Regions from separate parts of the Homo sapiens genome. Here regions 1 and 2 are each linked to region 3. The links come from fine-mapping of genetic effects on gene expression. A gene starts in region 3. Each other region holds a variant in brackets. All regions are shown on one strand. Distances are from middle to middle.

Evidence for each region. PIP is the estimated chance that this variant, and not a neighbour inherited with it, causes the effect. A credible set is the group of variants that fine-mapping cannot tell apart.
Region 1: its variant is the best candidate, but not a certain one, in a credible set for the expression of FGFR4 in anterior cingulate cortex (GTEx, PIP 0.78).
Region 2: its variant is the best candidate, but not a certain one, in a credible set for the expression of FGFR4 in B cells (Schmiedel 2018, PIP 0.51).

The regions. Positions count from the first base shown.
Region 1 is chr5:177,044,809-177,052,988 of GRCh38, forward strand. ZNF346 (zinc finger protein 346) reads left to right here. Exons shown (of 7, transcript NM_012279.4): 5 at 5,943-6,128. Among named protein-coding and RNA genes, the nearest start is that of ZNF346, 26 kb to the left of the region's middle. The variant C/T (reference allele first, on the strand shown) is at 4,898.
Region 2 is chr5:176,983,527-176,991,706 of GRCh38, forward strand. The region is part of intron 1 of UIMC1 (ubiquitin interaction motif containing 1); the gene reads right to left. Among named protein-coding and RNA genes, the nearest start is that of UIMC1, 19 kb to the right of the region's middle. RefSeq lists a silencer at 1,229-1,429. The variant CAA/C (reference allele first, on the strand shown) is at 4,604.
Region 3 is chr5:177,082,722-177,090,901 of GRCh38, forward strand. FGFR4 (fibroblast growth factor receptor 4) reads left to right here and starts at 4,194. Exons shown (of 18, transcript NM_213647.3): 1 at 4,194-4,356; 2 at 6,829-6,972; 3 at 7,669-7,932; 4 at 8,024-8,104. The coding sequence starts at 6,882. RefSeq lists silencers at 3,805-3,854, 4,105-4,564, a promoter at 4,075-4,294 and an enhancer at 4,260-4,710.

The sequences.
Region 1 (8,180 bases), 38 kb before region 3:
CAGGCCACGCATACCATGAGAGCATTCTATCTCCTACCTCTCCCACTAGATTTTTCCATCCCAGCATCCACCTGCCCTTATTACTGCATGTTCCAAGTTGAAAGCTAAATCCTTGTCTTTTTCACATGCTCAGGTTATGGCCTACTCACTTTAATCCTCAAAAGCTGCCTGTTCTCCTCAAGACAGGGACTTGCCTTTCAAAGCTGAATACTTCAGTGCTGCTACTACTGCCCCACAATCTGTAACTGCCATGAATTCATTCCCAGTACAGTGACTTCTGAAATAGCCCCCTTTATCTCGTCACGACTAGGGCTCAGCCCTCACTTTCATCTCATTAACTCCTGACTTTCTGGGGTTTTAACCTCTGCTAATTGCAATTAGTCAAGAGTGAAAGTTCTTTGATGTTTATTTCATTGTTTTCTTGATAATTTTTGCTTCTCTATTTTGGACCAAGAAGTAGACTACACTATTAGTAATACTATTATCCTTTTTGTGTTTACTGACAACTGTGTTTTGGAAGCCTTCAAAGGTAGGGTGAAAAATCACTCATAATTTTTTTTTTTTGAGATGGAGTCTCGCTCTGTTGCCTAGGTTAGAGTGCAGTGGCATGATCTCGGCTCACTGCAAGCTCTACCTCCCAGGTTCATGCCATTCTTCAGCCTCAGCCTCCCAAGTAGCTGGGACTACAGGTGCCCACCACCATGCCCAGCTAATTTTTTTGTATTTTTTAGTAGAAACGGGGTTTCACTGTGTTAGCCAGGATGGTCTCAAACTCCTGACCTCGTGATCCACCTGCCTCGGCCTCCCAAAGTGTTAGGAATACAGGCATAAGCCACCACGCCGGCCAAAACCTTTTTTTTTAAATAGAGATGGCTTCTCACTATATTGCTCAGGCTGGTCTTGAACTCCTGGCCTTAAGTGATACTCCCATCTCAGCTTCCCAGAGTGCTGGGATTACAGGCATGAGCCACCACACCTGGCCACTCATAATTACACCTTTTTATCACACCCACATCTAGTTATTCATGGTATGAAACAGCAGAATGTGGACTTTGAAGTCACAGAGTCCCAGGTTTAAAGCCTGGCACTGTTACTGTTTATATGACTTTTTTGTGTCTGAACTGCCTAACCTATAAAATGATAATAATACTGTCTACTTCATCGGTTGTGAGGATACAATAATGTGTATTAAAAACACAGGACATAGGCCGGGCATGGTGGCTCATGCCTGTTGTAATCCCAGCACTTTGGGAGGCTGAGGTGGGCAGATCACTTGAAGTCAGGAGTTCAAGACCAGCCTGGTCAACACGGTGAAACCCAATCTCTACTAAAAATAACAAAAATTAGCTGGGTGTGGTGGCACGAGCCTGTAGTCCCAGCTTCTTGGGAGACTGAGGCAAGAGAATCGCTTGAACCCGGGAGCTGGAGGTTGCAGTGAGCTGAGATCGCACCATTGTACACCAGCCTGGGGGACAGAGCAAGACCTCGTCTCAAAAAAAAAAAAAAAAAAACCAATTTTATAAGGTCACAGACTTCTCTTCCCACAAATGGGAAAATTCTCTGCATTATGCCTTGTCCCTGAAATTTCATACTCGAGATTATTTTCCATATTCACTTTCAGCTTTTGCCACATACTTTGTTTTTATATAGTTGTGATCATAATGCAGGTACCCTTTATATCCCGCTTTTACTTTTCATTTAATTTTACAGCTTAAGCACATTTCCATGTTATTACACAACTTTATAACTATATTTCTGAAATTAAACACTTTTTAATGTAAAGTAATATAATCATGTTGTAAGAGATAAGGAAAACATGGATAAATGGAAAGAAAAGTTACCCATAATTTTACCATTCACAGATAAACACTGTTAACATTTTGGTTTCTCCTATAATCTGTTTCTCCTATAATCTTATTGTTATATGTATCTTTGTATATCTGTGTGTATATTCGTTTTGTGTATATCTAGGTTAACTCCGTGTATATGTGCATATAAACATAGACTACTTTAAATAACTTTCATGTTTTTATAAAAACAATGCATACTCATTATGAATAATTCCACTTCAAACAATTGCAAAAGATACAAAGAAGAAAGTAAAATATCACCTAAATCCTACACCAAGAGAGAAATACTGTTAATATGTTGGTGATGTTTTAAAATACCAGTATGCACATATGGATTACACGTGTGGGGTTTTTAAAATTTTTTTATTTATTTTTATTTATTTATTTATTTATTTATTTATTTATTTTGAGATGAAGTCTTGCTCTGTCACCCAGGCTGGAGTGCAGTGGCACGATCTCGGCTCACTGCAACCTCCGCCTCCTGGGTTCAAGCGATTCTTCTGCCTCAGCCTCCCAAGTAGCTGGGACTACAGGCGCGTGCCACCGCGCCTGGCCAATTTTTGTGTTTTTATTAGAGACGGGGTTTCACTATGTTGCCCAGGCTGGTCTTGAACTCCTGGCCTCAAACAATGATCTTACCGTATGGTATGTACAATTGCCTTTTTTGTTTGTTTGTTTTTTGTTTTTTTTTTTTTTTGAGATGGAGTCTCCCTCTTTTGCCCAAGCTGGAGTGAAATGGCGCAATCTCAGCTCACTGCAACCTCTGCCCCACCAGGTTCAAGCAATTCTCCTGCTTCCACCTGCTGAATAGCTGGGATTACAGGTGCCCACCACCATACCCGGCTAATGTTGTTTTTTTGTTTTTTTGAGATGGAGTTTTGCTGTCGCCTAGACTGGAGTGCAGTGGTGCAACCTTGACTCACTGCAACCTCCACCCTCTGGGTTCAAGCAATTCTCTTGACTCAGCCTCCTGAGTAGCTGGGACTACCGGCACCTGCCACCACGCCCAGTTAATTTTTGCATTTTTAATAGAGACAGGGTTTCAACATATTGCTCAGGCTGGTCTTGAATTCCTGACCTCAGGTGATCCACCCACCTCAGCCTCCCAAAGTTCTGGGATTACAGACATGAGCCACCGTGCCCTGCCTAATTTTTGTATTACTAGCGATGGGGTTTCGGCATGTTGGCCAGGCAGATCTCTAACTCCTGATCTCAGGTGATTCACCCGCTTCTGCCTCCCAAAGTGCTAGGATTACAGACATGAGCCACCGCACCTGGCCATACAATTGCCTTCTATATGTTTTTTATTTAATATGACATTTGTATTTCCCCATGTTATTAAAAAATTCTTTATAAGCATTTTTAGTGACTGCATCGTACTACATTTAATATTCGTCTAATGCTGAACATTTAATCTCCCCACCCCCCACTTTTTGGTGTTACAGATAACACTACAGTGAACATCTCTGTAGAACACTTTATTACATTTCAGGTTATTTTCTGAGAACAGACTCTATATCCCTCATTTTATTGGATGCGCATTAAATGGTTCTAGACTTACTTACACTTTCACTTCTGATGCTTCTGTTCAGTATCTCAAAGAATGACCGTTCTCTCTTAACAACCATTATACCTCTTTTCTGATGTTAAAAATCTACATTCATTACAGAAAAGTTGGAAAATAGTAGGCCGGGTGCTCACGCCTGTAATTCCAGCACTTTGGGAGGCTGAGGCGGGTGGATCACCTGAGGTCAGGAGTTTGAGACCAGCCTGACCAACATGGAGAAACCCCATCTCTACTAAAAATACAAAATTAGCTGGGCATGGTGGCGTATGCCTGTAATCCCATCTACTTCGGAGACTGAAGCAGGAGAATCGCTTGAACCCCAGAGGCAGAGGTTGCAGTGAGTCAAGATCGTGCCATTGCACTCCAGCCTGGGCAACAAGAGCAAAACTCCATCTCAAAAAGAAAAAAAAGAAAGGAAAAGTCGGAAAATAGTGAAACACACTCTACTCTCTGTGCTTTTGATCTTTTTTCCATGCTGTCACCTATGCGTTTGTTGTTGTTCTATAAAATTGAGGACATAAGAAGCAGATTGATGTGTAACTTGTTTTTTTCTTTTTTTTTCTTTTTTTTTTTTTTTGAGACAGAATTTCACTCTTTTCGCTCAGAGTGGAGTGCAATGGCGCAATCTCAGCTTACTGCAGCCTCCGCCCACCTGTTCAAGCAGTTCTCCTGCCTCAGCCTCCTGAGTAGCTGGGATTACAGGCATGCACTACCACACCCAGCTAATTTTGTATTTTTTTAGTAGAGACTGAGTTTCACCATGTTGGCCAGGCTGGTCTCAGAACTCCTGAGTCAGATTATCTGCCTGCCTCAACCTCCCAAAGTGCTGGGATTACAGGCACAAGCCATTGCGCCTGGCCTGTAACTTGCTTTTTTTACACTCAACACCACAAACAGAATATTTTCTCATATTATAAAATATTCTACAACATGTACATTACTTTTTTGATGACTTGCTGAAACAAAATCAACAAGCAGAGAAACTGAAATTCCCTATACTAGAAAAACCATTGTGGGAAAGGCCAGCAAATTTCTTCTGGCTTGCCCAAAATCCTCAAAACTTCCCCAGTTGAAGTGATACAGGTATGGAAGAGCATCTGAGACATATCATCTGTGAGTCCTGCTGAGCCCCATCAGTCCTCCACCACTGGTGGGGGCTTCTGGGCCCCACATTTTTAAAGCAGTAGTTGCTAGGTTGACACCATTTCAGCCACATGGACTTGTTAGTGAGTCGTGGCATCCGCTTTATGAGGCAGCAGCGCAGCCTAGAGTCAACATCAAGCCATATGTTGATGCACAAGAGGCTCGCATGTATGCCTATACCAGGCTCTGATTCACTGAATTCATTGGCCAGAATCAGGGATGTTTTCTGAAGGCGTAAGTAAGAGCTATAGCCTTCAGGTCTTCTTGCCACACTGGCAGCCTGGCATAGCAAAGAGAGCACAGGCTTTAGGGTCACAGACCTGGCTTCACTCACTGG[C/T]TGGGTCACCTTGGGCAAGCCACTTCACTCATCTGAGCCTCAGTTTTTCTGAATAATGTGGCAAAGTGATACCTACCTCATTGGGGTAGTTCTGAGGACCAAAGGAGAAAATATATGTAGAAAACACATCACTAATTTTTTTTTTTTTGAGGTGGAGTTTCGCTCTTGTCGCCCAGGCTGGAGTGCAGTGGCGCAATCTCGGCTCGCTGCAACCTCCGCCTCCTGGGTTGAAGTGATTCTCCTACCTCAGCCTCCCAAGTAGCTGGGATTACAGGCACACGCCACCATGCCCAGCTAATTTTTGAATTTTTAGGAGAGACAGGGTTTCACCATGTTGGCCAGGATGGCCTCAATCTCTTGACCTCGTGATCCGCCTGCCTTGGCCTCCTGAAGTGCTAGGATTACAGATGTGAGCAAAACGCATAACTAAATGTTAATGGTCCTCTTTTCTCTCTACTCAGCCTATAATATGCAATGTAGCCTAAAAGGCATCCCTAGTATGGTTACCTTTTCTGAATGACCTTGTATGAGCTCCAGGAACTCAAGCCTCAATTTCTGTATCTGTGCATTTGTTCCCAGCTCTGCAACTGTATTACTTTAAGGATGAGAATAAAACTCCCAAACTTCGTGTCCCACTTGCTGTGAAGTTCTGGGAAGTACTGAGGTATCCCTGCAAGAGTGCAAGTGTGCATCTCTAGTCTATTGTAACTTGGCAGCCTGACAGGAGAAGCTCAGGGCCTCCTAAGAATATGAGAACCACCAGGATTTGTGGGCTTAAAGTAGTTAAAGCCGCTGAATGAAATAGCCAGTCTTTGGGCTCCCTCAAATCTTCCCAGGTTTCCCAATTAGAGAATGCATTCACCTGTGTGACTCACACAGGCAGTGCCACATCTGCAGTAGGATTAACTGGTGTCACAGCCCTTTCTATTCAGCATACTCAAAAGCCTGACACCTTCTGGGTTTTTTCATTGTTTCTGTTTGAACTCTCTCACTGCAGCTCTGTCAAAACGCCTTACAAATCCTTTCCTTGTGGCCTCCACCTTAGCCTTGCACCAGAATAGAGAGATGATAGACCCAGACAAGTTCTGCAGCCTCTGCCATGCAACTTTCAACGACCCTGTCATGGCTCAACAACATTATGTGGGCAAGAAACACAGAAAACAGGAGACCAAGCTCAAACTAATGGCACGCTATGGGCGGCTGGCGGACCCTGCTGTCACTGACTTTCCAGGTGAGGGGGCCTAGCTCACACCCAGAGCTGGACCAGGGTTTGGCCACTGGGGCTACCCGGACCAGCTGACGTTGTGCTTTTCCTCCTTAGGTCTTGTAAGTAGGGTTTGCGAACTCAGATGGCTACAGAAGCCAGATGAGAAATTAAAATGAGAGCCAGGAAGGGGATATGGTCAGCTGAAGAGTGAATGCCATTCCTACTCAGCTGTTACCATATCTTTCAGGTTTTCTTTTCTTTTTTTTTTTTTTTTTTTTTTGAGACAGAGTCTTGCTCTGTCACCCAGGCTGGAGTGCAGTGGCGCGATCTCGGCTTACTGCAAGCTCCACCTCCCAGGTTCATGCCATCCTTCTGCCTCAGCCTCCTGAGTAGCTGGGACTACAGGTGCCTGACACCATGCCCAGCTAATTTTTTTGTATTTTTAGTAGAGACGGGGTTTCACCATGTTAGCCAGGATGGTCTCGATCTCCTGACCTTGTGATCCGCCCACCTCGGCCTCCCAAAGTGCTAGAATTACAGGCGTGAGCCACCGCGCCCAGCCCTCTTTCAGGTTTTCAAAAGACTCTGGAAAGCCAGATTTATATAGAAATCCCTCTGTTTTTGTTTTTGCGTTTGTGTTTTTTGAGATGGAGTCTCCCTCTGTCACCCAGGCTGGAGTGCAGCGGCGCAATCTCAGCTCACTGCAGCCTCCACCTCCTGGGTTCAAGCGATTTTCCTGCCTCAGCCTCCCGAGTAGCTGGGGCTACAGGCACACACCACCACGCCCGGCTAATTTTTGTATTTTTAGTAGAGACAAGGTTTCACCATGTTGGGCAGGATGGTCTCGATTTCCTGACCTCGTGATCCGTCCGCCTCGGCCTCCCAAAGTGCTGAGATTACAGGCGTGAGCCACTGCACCCGGCCCCTCTGATTTTTAAATGTGTAACTAAATTAAAAAATTTTTAAGCCCAGCCAGGCATAGTGGCTTATGCTGTAATCCAAACACTTTGGGATGCCAAGGTAGGAGGATCACTTGAGCCTAAGAGTTCAAGACCAGCCTGGCCAACATGGTGAGATCCCATCTCTACTAAAAATTTTAAATATTAGCTGGGCATGTGGCGCATGTCTGTAGTCCCAGCACCTTGGGAAGGCTGAGGTGGGAGGATAACTTGAGCCCAGGAGGTCAAGGCTAAAGTGAGATATGATTGTGCCACTGTATTCCAACCTGAGTGAGAGCGAGAACATGTATCAAAAAAACAATTTTTTTTTTTTTTTGAGACAGTCTCACTCTGTCTCCCAGGCTGGAGTACAATGACACCATCTCACCTCACTGCAACGTCTGCCTCCTGTGTTCAAGCGATTCTTATGCCTCAGCCTCCTGAGTAGCTGGGATTACAGTTATGTGCCACCCCACATGGCTAATTTCCGGCTAATTTTTTTTGTATTTTTAGTAGAGACAAGAGTTTCACCGTGTTGGCCAGGTTGGTCTCGAACTCCTGACCTCAAGTGATCCACCCGCCATGACCTCCCAAAGTGGTGGGATTAGAGGCATTAGCCACCAAGCCCAGCCAAAAAAAAAAAAAACTATTTTTAAACCCTGTGTAAGTCAGACCTGTCTGCAAGCCAGATTTGGGCCAAGGACCCTTAGCGGATTAGATCAGAATCTCATGTTCTGATAGTTCTTACTTTGTACCTCCACAAAGGTGAACCCCTGAGAGAGAAAAGGTTGCTTCCTATCAGCAGAATTTAGACCCCTACATTAAAGTTTTGCCTCCCCCATTCTTTGGTTGTGGTTATGTTAAGGAGATACTGGTACTAAGAAAAACTACTAAAACTACACGTACACATGGTCCCCAACTTCCTATGGTTCAGCTTTATGATTTTTTTCAACTTTACGATGGTGTGAAAGCAATAGATGTTGAGTAGAAACTGTACTTCTCTTGCACTGCTAGGCAGCAATTGGTAATAAGTTTATCTAGATGTAACCCCATTGTAAGTCAAGGAACATCTGTAGAGTGAGAGAAAGCATGGAAATCTTCTGCTGACTTGCAGGATCCATTCACCACTCATTGGTAA
Region 2 (8,180 bases), 99 kb before region 3:
ACTCAATGCTCAATGTTGCCCAGGCTGGAGTGCAGTGGCATGATCTCGGCTCGCTACAACCTCCACCTCCCAGCCGCCTGCCTTGGCCTCCCAAAGTGCTAAGATTACAGCCTCTGCCCGCCCGCCACCCCATCTAAGAAGTGAGCAGTGTCTCTGCCTGGCTGCCCATCGTCTAGGATGTGAGGAGCCCCTCTGCCCGGCCACCCCGTCTGGGAAGTCAGGAGCGCCTCTACCCGGCCGCCACCCCGTCTAGGAAGTGAGGAGCCCCTGCCTGGCCGCCCATCGTCTTGGATGTGAGGAGCGCCTCTGCCCGGCTGCCCCGTCTGGGAGGAAGTGAGGAGTGCCTCTGCCCGGCCGCCACCCCATCTGGGATGTGAGGAGCACCTCTGCCCGGCCACCCCATCTGGGAAGTGAGGAGTGCCTCTGCCCAGCCGCCCCGTCTGGGAGGAAGTGAGGAGCGCCTCTGCCCGGCCGCCCCGTCTGGGAAGTGAGGAGCGCCTCTGCCCGGCCGCCCCGTCTGGGAAGTGAGGAGTGCCTCTGCCCGGCCGCCCCGTCTGGGAAGTGAGGAGTGCCTCTGCCCGGCCGCCCTGTCTGGAAAGTGAGGAGTGCCTCTGCCCGGCCGCCCTGTCTGGGAAGTGAGGAGCGCCTCTGCCCGGCCGCCCCGAATGGGAAGTGAGGAGCGCCTCTGCCCGGCCGCCCCATCTGGAAAGTGAGGAGTGCCTCTGCCCGGCCGGCCCATCTGGGATGTGAGGAGCGCCTCTGCCGGCCGCCACCCCGTCTGGGAAATGGGGAGTGCCTCTGCCCGGCCGCCCCGTCTGGGAAGTGAGGAGTGCCTCTGCCCGGCCTCCCCGTCTGGGAAGTGAGGAGTGCCTCTGCCCGGCCGCCACCCCGTCTGGGAAGTGGGGAGCGCCTCTGCCCGGCTGCCTATCGTCTGGGATGTGAGGAGCGCCTCTGCCTGGCCGCCCCATCTAGGAGTGAGGAGTGCCTCTGCCTGGCCGCCCCATCTAGGAGTGAGGAGTGCCTCTGCCCGGCCGCCCCATCTGGGAGGTGTACCCAACAGCTCCGAAGAGACAGCGACCAACGAGAACAGGCCATGATGACGATGGCGGTTTTGTCAAAAAGAAAAGGGGGAAATGTGGGGAAAAGAAAGAGAGATCAGGTTGTTACTGTGCCTGTGTAGAAAGAAGTAGACATAGGAGACTCCATTTTGTTCTGTACTAAGAAAAATTCTTCTGCCTTGGGATGCTGTTAATCTATAACCTTACCCCCAACCCCGTGCTCTCTGAAACATGTGCTGTGTCAACTCAGGGTTAAATGGATTAAGGGCAGTGCAAGATGTGCTTTGTTAAAAAGATGCTTGAAGGCAGCATGCTTGTTAAGAGTCATCACCACTCCCTAATCTCAAGTACCCAGGGACACAAACACTGCGGAAGGCCACAGGGACCTCTGCCTAGGAAAACCAGAGACCTTTGTTCATGTGTTTATCTGCTGACCTTCTCTCCACTATTATCCTATGACCCTGCCACATCCCCCTCTCCAAGAAACACCCAAGAATGATCAATAAATACAAAAAATAAAAATATAGAGGAATTTTTTTTAGAAAAATATAGGGAAAAAATGGTTTTTTTTTCTATAGAGAGAAACATAGACTGGGCACAGTGGCTCATGCCTGTAATCCCAGCACTTTGGGAAGCTGAGGCAGGTGGATCATTTGACGTGAGGAGTTGGAGACTATCCTGGCCAACATGGTGAAACCCTGTCTCTACTAAAAATACAAACATTAGCCGGGCGTGGTAGCGCATGCCTGTAATCCCTGCTACTCAGGAGACTGAGGCAGGACAATCACTTGAACCCGGGAGGCGGAGGTTGCAGTGAGCTGAGATCGCACCACTGCATTCCAGCCTGGGCAACAAGAGGGGAATTCTGTCTCAAAAAAAAAAAAAAAACAACTATATAAATATACAAATCTCATTCTCCATGGTGAAATTTCAGTATCAATAATATAGTCATGTATCCTAGTTCTTTAAACATCAATTTAGATAATTGCTTTTCTTGACTACATATTATAATTTACCTACAAGTTTTTTTTCTTTTTTGAGACAAGGTCTCGCTCTGTCACCCAGGCTAGGGTGCAGTGGCATGATCGTAGCTCACCACAGCCTCATCCTCCTTGGCTCAAACAACCCTCCCACCTCAGCTTCCTGTGCAGCTGGGACCACAGGGGTGTGCCAGCACACCTGGCTAATTTAATTTACTTTTTATTCCTTATAAGATAGGATCTCACTATGTTAACTAGGTTAAGATTTTTTAAATACCAAATGCCTCAACCTGATAAAGGACTTCTACAAAAATCCCATAACTAATAAGCTAACATCATGTTTAAAGGTACAAGACTGAATGCTTTCTCCTTTCGACAAGGAGCAAGACAAGAATGTTTCCTTTCAGCTGGGCGCAGTGGCTCACCCCTGTAATCCCAACACTTTGGGAGGCCAAGGCAGGAGGATCACTTGAGGTCAGGAATTTGAGACCATCCTATGCAACGTATTTTTTTTTTTGTAGAGACAAGACATGGCATCCTGTGTCTACAGGATAGAAGGCCGTCGTGGGCTGATCACCTGAGGTCAGGAGTTCGAGACCAGCCTGGCCAACATGGTAAAACCCCATCTCCACTAAAAACACAAAAATTAGCTCGGCGTGGTGGCGTGTGACTATAATCCCACCTAATCCAGAAGCTGAGGCAGGAGAATCACTTGAACTCAGGAGGTGGAGATTGCAGTGAGCTGAGATTGTGCCACTGCACTCCGGCCTGGGTGCCAGAGTAAGACTTCATCTCAAAAAAAAAAAAAAAAAAAAAAAAAAAAGTAAGGCACACTGGTGAGCACCTACAGTCCCAGCTACTCAAGAGGCTGAGGCAGGAGGATAGCTTGAGTGTGTTTGAGACTGCCATGAGCTATGATCATGCCGATGAACTTCAGCCTAGGCAACTGGGCAACAGAGCAAGACCCTGTCTCCAAAAAAAAAAAAAAAAAAAGGCTGGGCACACTGGCTCACACCTATAATCCCAGTATTTTGGGAGACCAAAGCAGGAGGATGGCTTGAGCCCACAAGTTAAGAGACCAGCCTCATCAACATAGCAAGACCCTGTCTCTACAAAAAATTAAAAAATTAGCTCAGCATGGTGGCATGCCTGTGGTCCCAGCTACTGCAGCCTGGGCAACAGGGCATGGTTCTATCTCAAAAAAAACAATGTCTGCTTTAATCATTGAACATTATACTTAGGGTTCTAGGCAGAACAATTAAGCAAAGAGAAATAAAAGATACTCAACTTAGAAGTAAAACTATCACGATTTGCAGATGACATGACCTGTGTTTAAAAAAAAACACTAAGAAACACATTAAAAAACTATTATAGGCCAGGTACAGTGACTCACACTTGTAATCCCAGCACTTCAGGAGGCTGAGGCGGGCAGATTACTTGAGGTCAGGAGTTTGAGACTAGCCTGGCCAATATGGTGAAACCCTGTCTCCACTAAAAATACAAAAATTAGCCAGGCGTGGTGGCGGGCGCCTGTAATCCCAGCTACTTGGGAGGCTGAGGCAGGAGAATCACTTGAACCCGGGAGGCAGAGGTTGCAGTGACCCAAGATCGTGCCATTGGCACTCCAGCCTGGGCGACAAGAGCGAAACTCCATCTCAAAACAACAACAAAATCAACAGTTCATCAAGGTTATCTTGCCTTGTATCAATGCAGGAAACAAGTCAACATACAAAAACCAATTGCATTCCTATATGCTAGACATAAACAATCAAAACTGAAATTTTAAAAATTATATTTCTGGCTGGGCACAGTGGCTCATGTTTATAATCCCAGCACTTTAGGAGGCTGAGGCTGGTGTATCACTCGAGGTGAGGAGTTTGAGACCAGCCTGGCCAACATGGTGAAACCCCATCTCTACCAAAAAATAAAAATAAAAAAACTAGCCAGGCATGGTGGTGCACACAGGTAGTCCCAGCTACTCAGGAGGCTGAGGTAAAAGGACTGCTTGAACCCAGGGCAGAGGTTGCAGTGAGCCAAGACCACACCACTGCCCTCCAGCCTGGGTGACAGAGTGGGACCCTGTCTCAAAAAAATAAAATAAAAATAAACATTAGCCAGGCATGGCAGCTAATGCCTGTAGTCCCAGCTACTTGGCAGGCTAAGGAGGAGGGATCACCTAAGCCCAGGAGGTTGAGGCTGCAGTAAACTGTGATCACACCACTGCACTCCAGCCTGGGCAACAGAGCAAGACCCTGTCTCACAAAAAAAAAAGACATCAAACGTAAAAGTAGCCCAGCAGAGTGGGCTGTAATCCCAAAACTCTGAGAGGCCAAGACTGGTGGATCACTTAAGCCCAGGAGTTTGAGACCAGCCCAGGAAACACGGCAAAACCCTATACAAAAAATACGAAATGTAGCCAGATGTGGTGGCGCACTTGTAGTCCCAGTTAGTTGGGAGGCTCAAGTGGGAGGATGGAGGATCAATTGAGCCCAGGAGGTCAAGGCTGCAGTGAACCAATATCCGTGCCACAGCACTCCAGCCTGGGTGACAGACTACGCCCCTGTC[CAA/C]AAAAAAAAAAAAAAAAAAACTCAAATCATTAATCATGAGGGAAACGCAAATCAAAACCACAATGAAATATCACTTTATACCCACTCTGATGGCTGGCTATTTTTTAAATAATGGAAAATAACTAGTGTTGGTAAGGATGCTGGAGAAACTGGAACTCTAGTACACTGTATTATTGATAGGATGTAAAATGGTGTAGCCACTATGGGGAAACAAAAGGAATGAAGTATTAATACATGCTACAACATGGATGAACCTTGAAAACATGCCAAGCGAAAGAAGCCAGACATAAAAGGCACATATTGTATGATTCTATTTATAAGAAACATCCAGAATAGGCAAATCCATAGGCAGAAAGCAGATTAGTGATTACCAGAAGATGAGATAGGGGAAAATGTACAATGACTGCTTAATGGATATAAGGTTTATTTTGGGGATGATAGAAATGTTCTGGAATTAGAAAGTGGTAATTGCACAACACTGTGAATTTATTAAAAGCCACCAAATTGTACACTTAAAATGACTGAAATGGTAGATTTTGTTAGGTGAATTTTTTTTTTTTTTTTTTTTTTGGAGACAGAGTCTTACTCTGTTGCCAGGCTGGAGTGCAGTGGTGCGATCTCTGCTCACTGCAGCCTCCACCTCCCGGGTTCAAGCAATTCTCCTGCCTCAGCCTCCCAAGCAGCTGGGGCTACAGGCATGTGCCACCACGCCAGGCTAATTTTTGTATTTTTAGTAGAGATGGGGTTTCACCATGTTGGCCAAGATGGTCTCGATCTCTCGACCTCATGATCCACCCACCTTGGCCTCCCAAAGTGCTGGGATTACAGGGTAAGCCACCGTGCCCAGCCTGTTAGGTGAATTTTACCTCAATTTTTTAAAAAGGGGAGCCCCGGATGATTTTATTTTACAGCCAGAGCAGAGAATCACTGACTCAATCACAGATTTAAATAAAGCCACCTTAACTTTGTAACAAACTTCTCAAACCATTCAATTACTCCTAAGGGGGTTGTTACATCTTATTATCAGAAGTAGTCTGTACAATACTAGCATTAAAGTTTTTCTAAAAAAAACACTTAAAGGATTAAAAAATTCTAAATTAAGGGATAGTAACAACATACACACACAGATGCTTACAATTTACAAAATCATTCCCCATGATAAAACTCGACACACAAACGTCCTTTTCTGCATTTAATGCATATTTTTAATGACTAAAGAACAAGAAATTACAAAGATGAAAAAATTAGCCAGGCGCAGTGGCTCAAGTCTGTAATCCCAGCACTTTGGGAGACCAAGGTGAGAGGATCATCTGAGGACAAGAGTTTGAGACCAGCCTGGACAACATGGTGAAACCCCATCTCTATTAAAAATACAAAAATTAGCTGGGTGTGGTGGCACATGCCTGCAGACCCAGCTACTGGAGAGGCTGGGGCAGGATTGCTTGAACCCAGGAGATGGAGGTTGCAGTGAACCAAGATCACACCACTGCACTCCAGCCTAGTCAACCGACCAAGACCCTGCCTCAAAAAAAAAAAGAAATATACTTTTAACTTCTGTATTTAAATACAGTTAACAGAATATTTATTGCATATGCAATGCAGAGGTAGCTAGTTATTATTTAAGTATACATAAATTCATACTAAAGCAGTAACATCTCACTAGATAACTAGATATGACCTATCCACTATGGTCTAAATGTTTGTGTCCCTCCAAAATTCATATGCTGACATCTAATCCCCAATGTGTTGGTAAGAAATGGGGCCTGGGGCCAGGCGCAGTGGCTCACGTCTGTAATCCCAGCACTTTGGGAGGCCGAGGCAGGCAGATCATGAGGTCAGGAGATCGAGACCATCCTGGCTAACATGGTGAAACCCCGTCTCTACTAAAAATACAAAAAAATTAGCCAGGCGTGGTGGCGGGAGCCTGTAGCCCCAGCTACTCGGGAGGCTGAGGCAGGAGAATGGCGTGAACCCGGGAGGTGGAGCTTGCAGTGAGCCGAGATCGAGCCACTGCACTCCAGCCTGGGCAACAGAGCGAGACTCTGTTACAAAAAAAAAAAACAAAAACAAAGAAAGAAATGGGGACTTAGGGAAGTCATGAAGACACAGCACTCATGAATGGGACTAGTGCCCTTATAAGAGAGGCCTAAGAGAACCTGTTTGCCCCTTTTACCCTTCTGCCATGTGAAGACACAGCAAGAAGGTCCCATCTTTTAAGCACAGTGCAAGCCCTCATCAGGCACCTTGATCTTACATTTACCAGACTTCAGAACTGTGAACAAAAAAAATTGTATTGTTTATAAATTACCCAGTCTAAGATATTCTGTTATAGCAGCAGGAAAAGGTTAAAAACCTATCAAGTTACCATTACACAAATTAAAACACAAATAAGATGACATATTTGTACTTCCTAAAATAAATTAATTTTATATTAATTCGCAAGAAGTGAATTTTCTAAACCCCAAACTGTAACAGAAATGGAAAAAACACATGCAACTTTGTACAAATGTTGCCATATTTCTAATATAAATAGATTTTATATTTATGTTTTTGTTTCTTGAGATAGGGGCTTGTTCTGTTGCCTTGGCTTGAATGCAATGTGTATGATCATAGCTCACTGCAACCTGTAACTCTTAGGTTCAAAGAATCCTCCTGCCCCAGCTTCCCAGGTAGGTAGGACTACAAGAGTACACCACAACACTCAGCTAATTTTTTTTTTTAAAGAGATGGGGGTCTTGCTGTGTTGCCCAGGCTGGTCTTGAACTCCTGGCCTCAAACGATCCTCCTGCCTTGGCCTCCTAAAATGCTAGGATTAGAAGCACAAGCCATCATGACTAATCAAGTCCTCAGTTTTATTTTTTATTTTATTTTTTATTTTTATTTTTATTTTTTTTGAGACAGAGTCTCGCTCTTTCGCCCAGGCCAGACTGCAGTGGCACTATCTCGGCTCACTGCAAGCTCTGCCTCCCAGGTTCACACCATTCTCCTGCTTCAGCCTCCTGAGTAGCTGGGATTACAGGCGCCCGCCACCACGCCCGGCTAATTTTTTTTGCATTTTTAGTAGAGATGGGGTTTCATCGTGTTAGCCAAGATGGTCTCGATCTCCTGACCTCGTGATCCACCTGCCTCAGCCTCCCAAAGTGCTGGGATTACAGACATGAGCCACCAAGCCCGGCCTCAGTTTTAATTCACCTTACTCTACCTTTTTAGATTCAGGTCTGCTACTACCATAATGAAGACTACCCAAAGAGCAAATCTCTTTGGGGAGAAACAGCAAAGACAACTGAGGGGAAAGAATATGAAATCTGGCAAATTGAGAAGACAGATCTGACCAGCCTGGGCAACACAGAAAGACTGCCTCTCGATCACCTGAGGTCGGGAGCTCAAGACCAGCCTGACCAACATGGAGAAATCCCATCTCTACTAAAAATACAAAATTAGCCAGGCATGGTGGCACTATTGCATTCAAGCCTGGGCAACAAGAGTGAAACTCCGTCTCAAAAAAAAAAAAAAAAAAAAGGCCAGGCGCGGTGGCTCACACCTGTAATCTCAGCACTTTGAGAGGCCGAGGCGGG
Region 3 (8,180 bases):
AATGCCAGCACTTTGGGAGGCCGAGACGGGTGGATCACCTGAGGTCAGGAGATCGAGACCAGCCTGGCCAACATGGTGAAACCCCGTCTCTACAAAAATACAAAAATTAGCTGGGTGTGGTGGCAGGCGCCTGTAGTCCCGGCTACTAGGAAGGCTGAGGCAGGAGAGGCAGGAGAATTGCTTGAGCCTGGGAGGCGGAGGTTGCAGTGAGCCAAGATCACGCCACTGCACTCCAGCCTGGGCAATAGAGCGAGGCTCCATCTCCACAAAAAAAAAAAAAAAAAAAGGAAGAAGAGGAAGCTGGAGCATGACGGCTTTCTGGGTGGGGAAACTGAGGCAGAGGCAGGTTAACAGCAGGATCTTAGGGTGACAGGCTCTTGCCTCTGCTAAGCGAGAGAGAGAGAGAGAGAGAGTGTGTGTGTGTGTGTGTGTGTGTGTCTGAATGTATTTTTTTTTTTTTTTGAGACAGGGTCTTGCTCTGTTTCCCAGGCTAGAGTGCAGTGCGTGATCTTGGTTCAATGCAACATCTGCCTCCCAGGTTCAAGTGATTCTCCTGCCTCAGCCACCCCAGTAGCTGGGATTACAAGCGTGTGCCACCATGCCTGGCCAATTTTTGTATTTTTAGTAGAGATGGGGTTTTACCATGTTGGCCAGGGTGGTCTCGAACTCCTGACCTCAAGTGATCCGCCCACCTCAGACTCCCAAAGTGCTGGGATTACAGGAGTGAGCCACTGTGCCCAGTCGTGTCTGAATGTCTTTGAGAAAGAGACTGCAAATGTGACTGGTGAAAGATTGCGTGTCAGCAAGAGAGTGAGACAGTGTGAAAGGCTTAGGTGCTCTCCCTGACTGGCTCAGCTTATCTCCCAGGCTGTAACTGATTACTTATCTGTCTGTCCCCACTACAATGTCAGCAGCCCCTTGAAGGGTAGAAGTAGGGTCCAGGCCAGGTGAGGTGGCTCACATCTGTAATCCCAGCATTTGAGGAGGCTGACATGGGCAGATAACTTGAGGTCAGGAGTTTGAGACTAGCCTGGTCAATATGGTGAAACCTTGTCTCTACTAAAAATATAAAAATTAGCCAGGTGTAGTAGTGCACATTTGTAATCCCAGCTACTCAGGAGCCTGAGGCAGGAGAATCACTTGAACCCAGGAGGCAGAGCTTGCAGTGAACTAAGATCACACCACTGCACTCCAGCCTGGACAACAGAGCAAGACACTGTCTCCCAAAGAAAAGAAAAGAAAAAGAGTCCAATTCGGGGCTTTATCCCCAGGATTTAAAACAGTGGATGCCACATAATGAACCTTCAATAAATAATCATTCAGATGAATGAGTGAATGAGTGAATGACTTTGTGAGGGAGCATCAGCCTCTGTGGAGGGTCAGTGTGAAAGGTTATGAGTGCGGGGAGAGGAGGCAGACAAGGGATATGGGGAACATATCCTAGGGACATCAGAGGGTTGCAAATCTGAGGGATTTGCGCATCTCAGGAGACAAGGAGGTTGCAAGACCTGAGCTATGAAAACTTTTAGTTTGTCTTTGGCTCTGGTAAACTCAGGAAATGCCCGGGAAGGTGAATGAAAGCCATGTGGGGTCCAGCTCCAGCTGGCGGCTCACCCTGTCTCCCCCCACAACCACATTCACAAGGGGAGCCAGCAGAGGGCCAGAGGCAGGGAGCTGAACCCCTCCAGCAGTCCGGGAGGTCTGGCAAGGTACCCTCTGGGCAGGCAGCTCCCAGGGCCAGGAGCCTCATCTGTCCTGGGAGCTCCAGCAAGGCAGGACTCTAGAGAAGGGAACCAGGACAAATTGTTTTTAAAAGATAACCAATTAAAAAAAAATTTATAATATACATATATATGTGTGGGTGTGTCTGTGTGTATGTATATACACACAGACACACAGACACACACAGACACACACACACACACACACACACACATATATATATATATATATATTTTTTTTTTTTTTTGGAGACAAAGTCTCACTCTGTCACCCAGTCTGGAGTGCAATGGCACGATCTCGGCTCACTGCAACCTCCACCTCCCGGGTTCAAGCAATTCTCTGCCTCAGCCTCCCTAGTAGCTGAGATTACAGGCACATGCCACCATGCCTGGCTAATTTTTTTGTATTTTTAGTAGAGCTGGGGTTTCACCATCTTGCCAGGTTGGTCTTGAACTCCTGACCTCGTGATCCACCCACCTAAGCCTCCCAAAGTGCTGAGATTACAGGCGTGAGCCACCGTGCCCAGCCTAATATATATTTTTAATAGAGACGAGATCTCACTATGTTGCCCAGGCTGGCCTCGAACTCCTGAGTTCAAGCGATCCTCCCGATTCAGCCTCCCACAGTGCTGGGATTATAGGCATGAGCCACCATGCCTGGCCTCAATTATTTTCTGATTTATCTTTGGGAGGAGACCATTCTTTCGCTTAAGAAGAAAAAGAAAAAAACAATTTTAAGTCTCTTTAATGGGCCTTACAGTTATGCAAAGATATGCCACTATCCCTTTGGGAGTGAGGGTGGAAAGAACTAGACTTGCCTGCGTAACAATGAGAAAGGAAGTTGCTTCTTAAGACAGGGTCTACACTAGCTAGAGGGGACAACCAGGACCTGAGCCTCAGACAGGGTCTCGCTCCATAGCCTGTTGCCCAGGCTACAGTGCAGTGGAGCGATCACGGCTCACTGCTGCCTCGACTTCCTGGGCTCAAGCAATCCTCTGGCCTCAGCCTCCCAAGTAGCTGGGACCACAGGTGCACCCAGCCCATTTCCCTTCCTCTCAAGGTGCCTTAAGAGAAGGAGAAGGCTTGAGATTCAGGTGAGGGATGGGCAGAGATCAGAGGCTGCCTGGCCTCCTGGTTTGGCCACAGTCTAGATGCTCAGGAGAGAAGTGCTTACAGGTGAGGCAAACATGAGCCAGGTGGGCACGGAGCTATCTGGGAGCACCTACTGTATGCCAGACACTTGAACTCTAATGGTGAGGTCTGAGGACACAGTTCCTCTACTGAAAAATAGAGACAGGGCAACTATGTTGCCAGGGCTGGCCTCACACTCCTGAATTCAAGCTGTCCTCCTACCTCAGTCTCCTAGTAACTAGAACTACAGGCACCCGTCATTGTGCCCGGCCATTCCACAGCTATTTACATAATTAACTGTTCAGTTACAATTCTGGCAAGCGTGCTGAAGAAATAACAGGTCCTAAATAATTACAGCTAGTATTACAAAGCAAGCGCTGCATGCCAGGCTTACACATACTGCTAACATGTCTACTTTTTGCAACAACCTCTTGTGGGTGAGACTATCATTTGCCTGTTTTACTGAAAGGACAGTGAAGACTGAGGCCTTGTGTGATGGTGCTGAGAGCTGGGCCTATGACGTCCAGCCCTGTAGTCTGTGCTCTGAACCACTTCACCCTGTTTCTTTCTCCATCCTCACAGTAGAGACGTCATCTAAGAGGAGCTTGCAAGTCCAGAGGGCTTCCTGAAGGAAGTGAGCTGAGAATAATATGAAATTAACCAGACCAAGGGCCATTCCAGGAAGAGAGAATGGTACGTGAAACTGCCCAGGAGTAGCAGGGTGGGAGCCAGGAGGCGTGGGTCATGGCAATCTATGTATAAAGAGCTATGGGAATCTATAGGAAAATTTAAGGGAGTGGCTGACACAGTCAGATTTGTGTTGTAAGTATCACTCCGCAGGTTGCGCAGGGAACAAATGAGGGAGCAGAAGGAAGGGGTTCTCCTATCCGCTGCACGGCACTGCGCAGAAGACAGGGGAGCCAGGCATTCCCTGAAGGGTGAAAAGCAAGGAGTAGAGCTGGGTAGTAGACTAGAATTTAGGAGCCTGGCCTGGGGCCTGGGTGGGGCGAAAGAGGCGGAGCCTGAATGGGGTGTGTATAGGGGGGTTGCGTGTAGGGGTGTGTGTATAGGCTGGGGCGGGGTCCCGGGAGTGGGCTGACTGGGTCGGGGGCGGGGCTCTCCAGGTGGGCGGGGATCTTGGCCACCCCTGGCCACACCTCTCTCCGGCTCGAGCTGGTCTAGGCGGGGCGGGCCCGAGGGGGTGTGGCAGGAGGTGGGCGGGCCCGGGTGGGGGGGGGGGGGGCGTGGAAGGAGGGGCGGGCCCGAGCAGGAGGGGGCGGGCCCGAGGGGCGGGGTGGGACAGGAGGTGGGCCGCTCGCGGCCACGCCGCCGTCGCGGGTACATTCCTCGCTCCCGGCCGAGGAGCGCTCGGGCTGTCTGCGGACCCTGCCGCGTGCAGGGGTCGCGGCCGGCTGGAGCTGGGAGTGAGGCGGCGGAGGAGCCAGGTGAGGAGGAGCCAGGTGAGCAGGACCCTGTGCTGGGCGCGGAGTCACGCAGGCTCGAGGTGAGCCGGAACCCTTGTGGGCCCGGGCTGCGCTCCCAGCCGCCAGGGGGCGAGAGGCGGCGGGGCTACGGGGACTGCCCCTCCCGGCGCAGGGGACCTGGGCGTCCGCCGGGCGGCAGGGGGTGGAGGGGGCGGTAAATCAGTAACCCGCAGTGCACACAGGGCCTTTTGTCCCGCTCCGTCCAAAGAGCACCCCGGCCGCGGAGCTGGTTACTCATTGCCCACCGAGGCGGGGGCAGGCTGGCCCTGTGCAGCTACCCTCGGGACCCATTGATTCGCACCTCCCCCCAGGCTGGCCCGGCAAGGGTGGGGGAGGACAAGCGCGCTTGTCCCTGCGGCTGTCTTCGCGCCGGCGGCAGAGATGAGGGACCTGAGGCCCCGAAAAGTTCAGTCACTTAGTGCCCGGGGGCCTCCAGCGCGAGTGCGGGAGGCTGAAGGAGAACCCAGGACTGTCTGATGCCTAAGGCAGGCCCTCCATTCCCACGTGGGGGGTGGTCGGTCAGCGGTCAGCAGCCATGGGTGACTCGACTAAGGACTCTGATATCAGGGCAGCCTGGGGTAGGAATAAACTCCCCGGGCCTCCCCACCCACTCCCAGCCCAAGCTGTGTACCCAAAGAGCTGCCCTCCCTGCCAAGCCGAGCTTGGTAGGGAGTTTTACCAAGGAGGATCCGACTGGATTCGAGAGTTGAGGTGGGCCAGAGACAGCAGTATCTGAGTCAGGTAGAGAAGAGCAATGAGGGGCACAGAGGGATGGGCAAGAGAGCACATGTGCCCAGTTTTGAAAGCCAATGGCTTCAGCGCTCCTGAAGGGGCAGACGGTGTGACCAAAGAGATAGGCAGCGGCAGAGAGGGAGCCCTAGGATGTTGAGCTGGATCCTGCTGGGCACAGGTAGCCATTAAGGGCTTGCAAGCTGGGGGGCATGACATGGCAGACTTGCAGGTTTTTTTGTTTGTTTTTTTATTTTATTTTATTTTTTTATTTTGTTTTTTTTGAGACGGAGTCTCACTCTGTCGCCCAGGCTGGAGTGCAGTGGCGCGATCTCGGCTCACTGCAAGCTCCGCCTCCCGGGTTCGCGCCATTCTCCTGCCTCAGCCTCCCGAGTAGCTGGGACTACAGGCGCCCGCCACCGCGCCCGGCTAATTTTTTGTATTTTTAGTAGAGACGGGGTTTCACCGTGTTAGCCAGGATGTTCTCGATCTCCTGACCTCGTGATCCGCCCACCTCGGCCTCCCAAAGTGCTGGGATTACAGGTGTGAACCATCGCGCCCAGCCGACTTGTAGTTTTTTAAAACTCTGCTGGAAGATGAAGGTTGAAGAGCCGAGGGAGAGGATGTTTCCAGAGGCCCATGCAAGAGATGGCCATGACCTGCCTTGAGAAGGGGCAGGGGAAGCCAGATGGACTGGAAGTGGAGTGGCAGTGACCAAGGAGGAGGAGGTGTGATAGGCTTCCCACGCAGGGTAGATCCAGAGACACCAGTGCCACCCATAGGCCCCTAGGACTGCAGTGGTCACCGATTCCTTTGTCCCAGCTGAGACTCAGTTCTGAGTGTTCTATTTTGGGGAACAGAGGCGTCCTTGGTAGCATTTGGAAGAGGATAGCCAGCTGGGGTGTGTGTACATCACAGCCTGACAGTAACAGCATCCGAACCAGAGGTGACTGGCTAAGGGCAGACCCAGGGCAACAGGTTAACCGTTCTAGGGCCGGGCACAGGGAGGAGAACATTCCAACACTCTGCGTGCCGACGCACGTTCTCTCTTTTATCCTCAAAACAGTCCTATGAGGATAGTAAGCCAGAGAGAGACAGAGACAAGGAATTACAAGTTGGTGAGAGTCAGGATTTGAACTTGGCTCTGGCAGATGGAAAATTAGGGTCTGTATTCTTTACAAAACCGTGTGTGCCTCAGATGGAGTTGGTGCATAACAAGCAGAGGTATCCAGGGTCGCGGTCCTGCTTGCCACGGAAGGGGCCGCCTTGTCAGTTGTGACCACCCAGCCCTGGAAATGTCAGTAATGCTGTAAGGAGTGGGGATCGGATCAGATGCCATCCAGATGCTGAAGTTTGACCTTGTGTCATTTTTCACTTTCTTTTTTGGCTCTTCTGCAATCAATTCATTTATTTAGCAAAAAAGAAATTATGTGTGCCGAGAGCATGCAGAAGATATGTCTCCGTTCTCTGCTTCCCTCCAAAAAAGAATCCCAAAACTGCTTTCTGTGAACGTGTGCCAGGGTCCCAGCAGGACTCAGGGAGAGCAGGAAGCCCAGCCCAGACCCCTTGCACAACCTACCGTGGGGAGGCCTTAGGCTCTGGCTACTACAGAGCTGGTTCCAGTCTGCACTGCCACAGCCTGGCCAGGGACTTGGACACATCTGCTGGCCACTTCCTGTCTCAGTTTCCTTATCTGCAAAATAAGGGAAAAGCCCCCACAAAGGTGCACGTGTAGCAGGAGCTCTTTTCCCTCCCTATTTTAGGAAGGCAGTTGGTGGGAAGTCCAGCTTGGGTCCCTGAGAGCTGTGAGAAGGAGATGCGGCTGCTGCTGGCCCTGTTGGGGGTCCTGCTGAGTGTGCCTGGGCCTCCAGTCTTGTCCCTGGAGGCCTCTGAGGAAGTGGAGCTTGGTATGGCTTCTGAGGTGGGAGAGGGTGGCAGGGGTGGGAAGAGTGGGCACCAGGAGGGGGCTGCTGGGCTGAGCAAAGCTGGAAAGGATCCTTGCCCAGGCCCTGAGAAGGTGGCGGCAGGGCAGGGCTCAACCACTGAGACTCAGTCAGTGCCTGGCTTCCAGCAAGCATTCATCTATCACTGTGTCTGCGAGAGAGGACTGGCCTTGCAGGGCGCAGGGCCCTAAGCTGGGCTGCAGAGCTGGTGGTGAGCTCCTTACCTGGGTGTGTGTGCGTGTGTGTGTGTGTTCTGTGCACTGGGTGTGTGACCTAGGAGGTCCAGGCAGCATGTGTGGTATAAGCATTATGAGGGTGATATGCCCCGGTGCAGCATGACCCTGTATGTGGCACCAACAGCATGTGCCTTGTGTGTGTGTGTGTCCGTATGTGTGTGTGTGTATGCGTGTGTGTGTGTGTGTGTGTCTTGGCCACTGTCGTGTGCACTAAATGCTGTGTGTGTGACATGCCCCAAGAGTGTGGCATTTGCCCTGGGTGTGGCATCCGCAGCATGTGGCTGTGTGGGTGTCAAGGAGTGGTGGCTCCTTCAGCATGCGTTGCAAAGTGCTTGTGCCCTGCATGTGCGGTGTGTTCTTTGTACACAGGAGGCTGCCTCAGATGGGGCTGCGGGGTCTGCTGACCTCTGCCCTCTGCCCACAGAGCCCTGCCTGGCTCCCAGCCTGGAGCAGCAAGAGCAGGAGCTGACAGTAGCCCTTGGGCAGCCTGTGCGTCTGTGCTGTGGGCGGGCTGAGCGTGGTGGCCACTGGTACAAGGAGGGCAGTCGCCTGGCACCTGCTGGCCGTGTACGGGGCTGGAGGGGCCGCCTAGAGATTGCCAGCTTCCTACCTGAGGATGCTGGCCGCTACCTCTGCCTGGCACGAGGCTCCATGATCGTCCTGCAGAATCTCACCTTGATTACAGGTGGTAAGAGACTCTAGCAGGGAGTGAAGGGATGCCTGGGGAGACAGACCTGCCCCTCTTGGACCTTAGATGCTTCCCTCTGTCCCTGATGTAGACTCCTTGACCTCCAGCAACGATGATGAGGACCCCAAGTCCCATAGGGACCCCTCGAATAGGCACAGTTACCCCCAGCAAGGTCAGTAGGTCTCCAAGGACTTGTGTCCCCGCTGCTGCTCATCTGATCACTGAGAAGAGGAGGCCTGTGTGGGAAC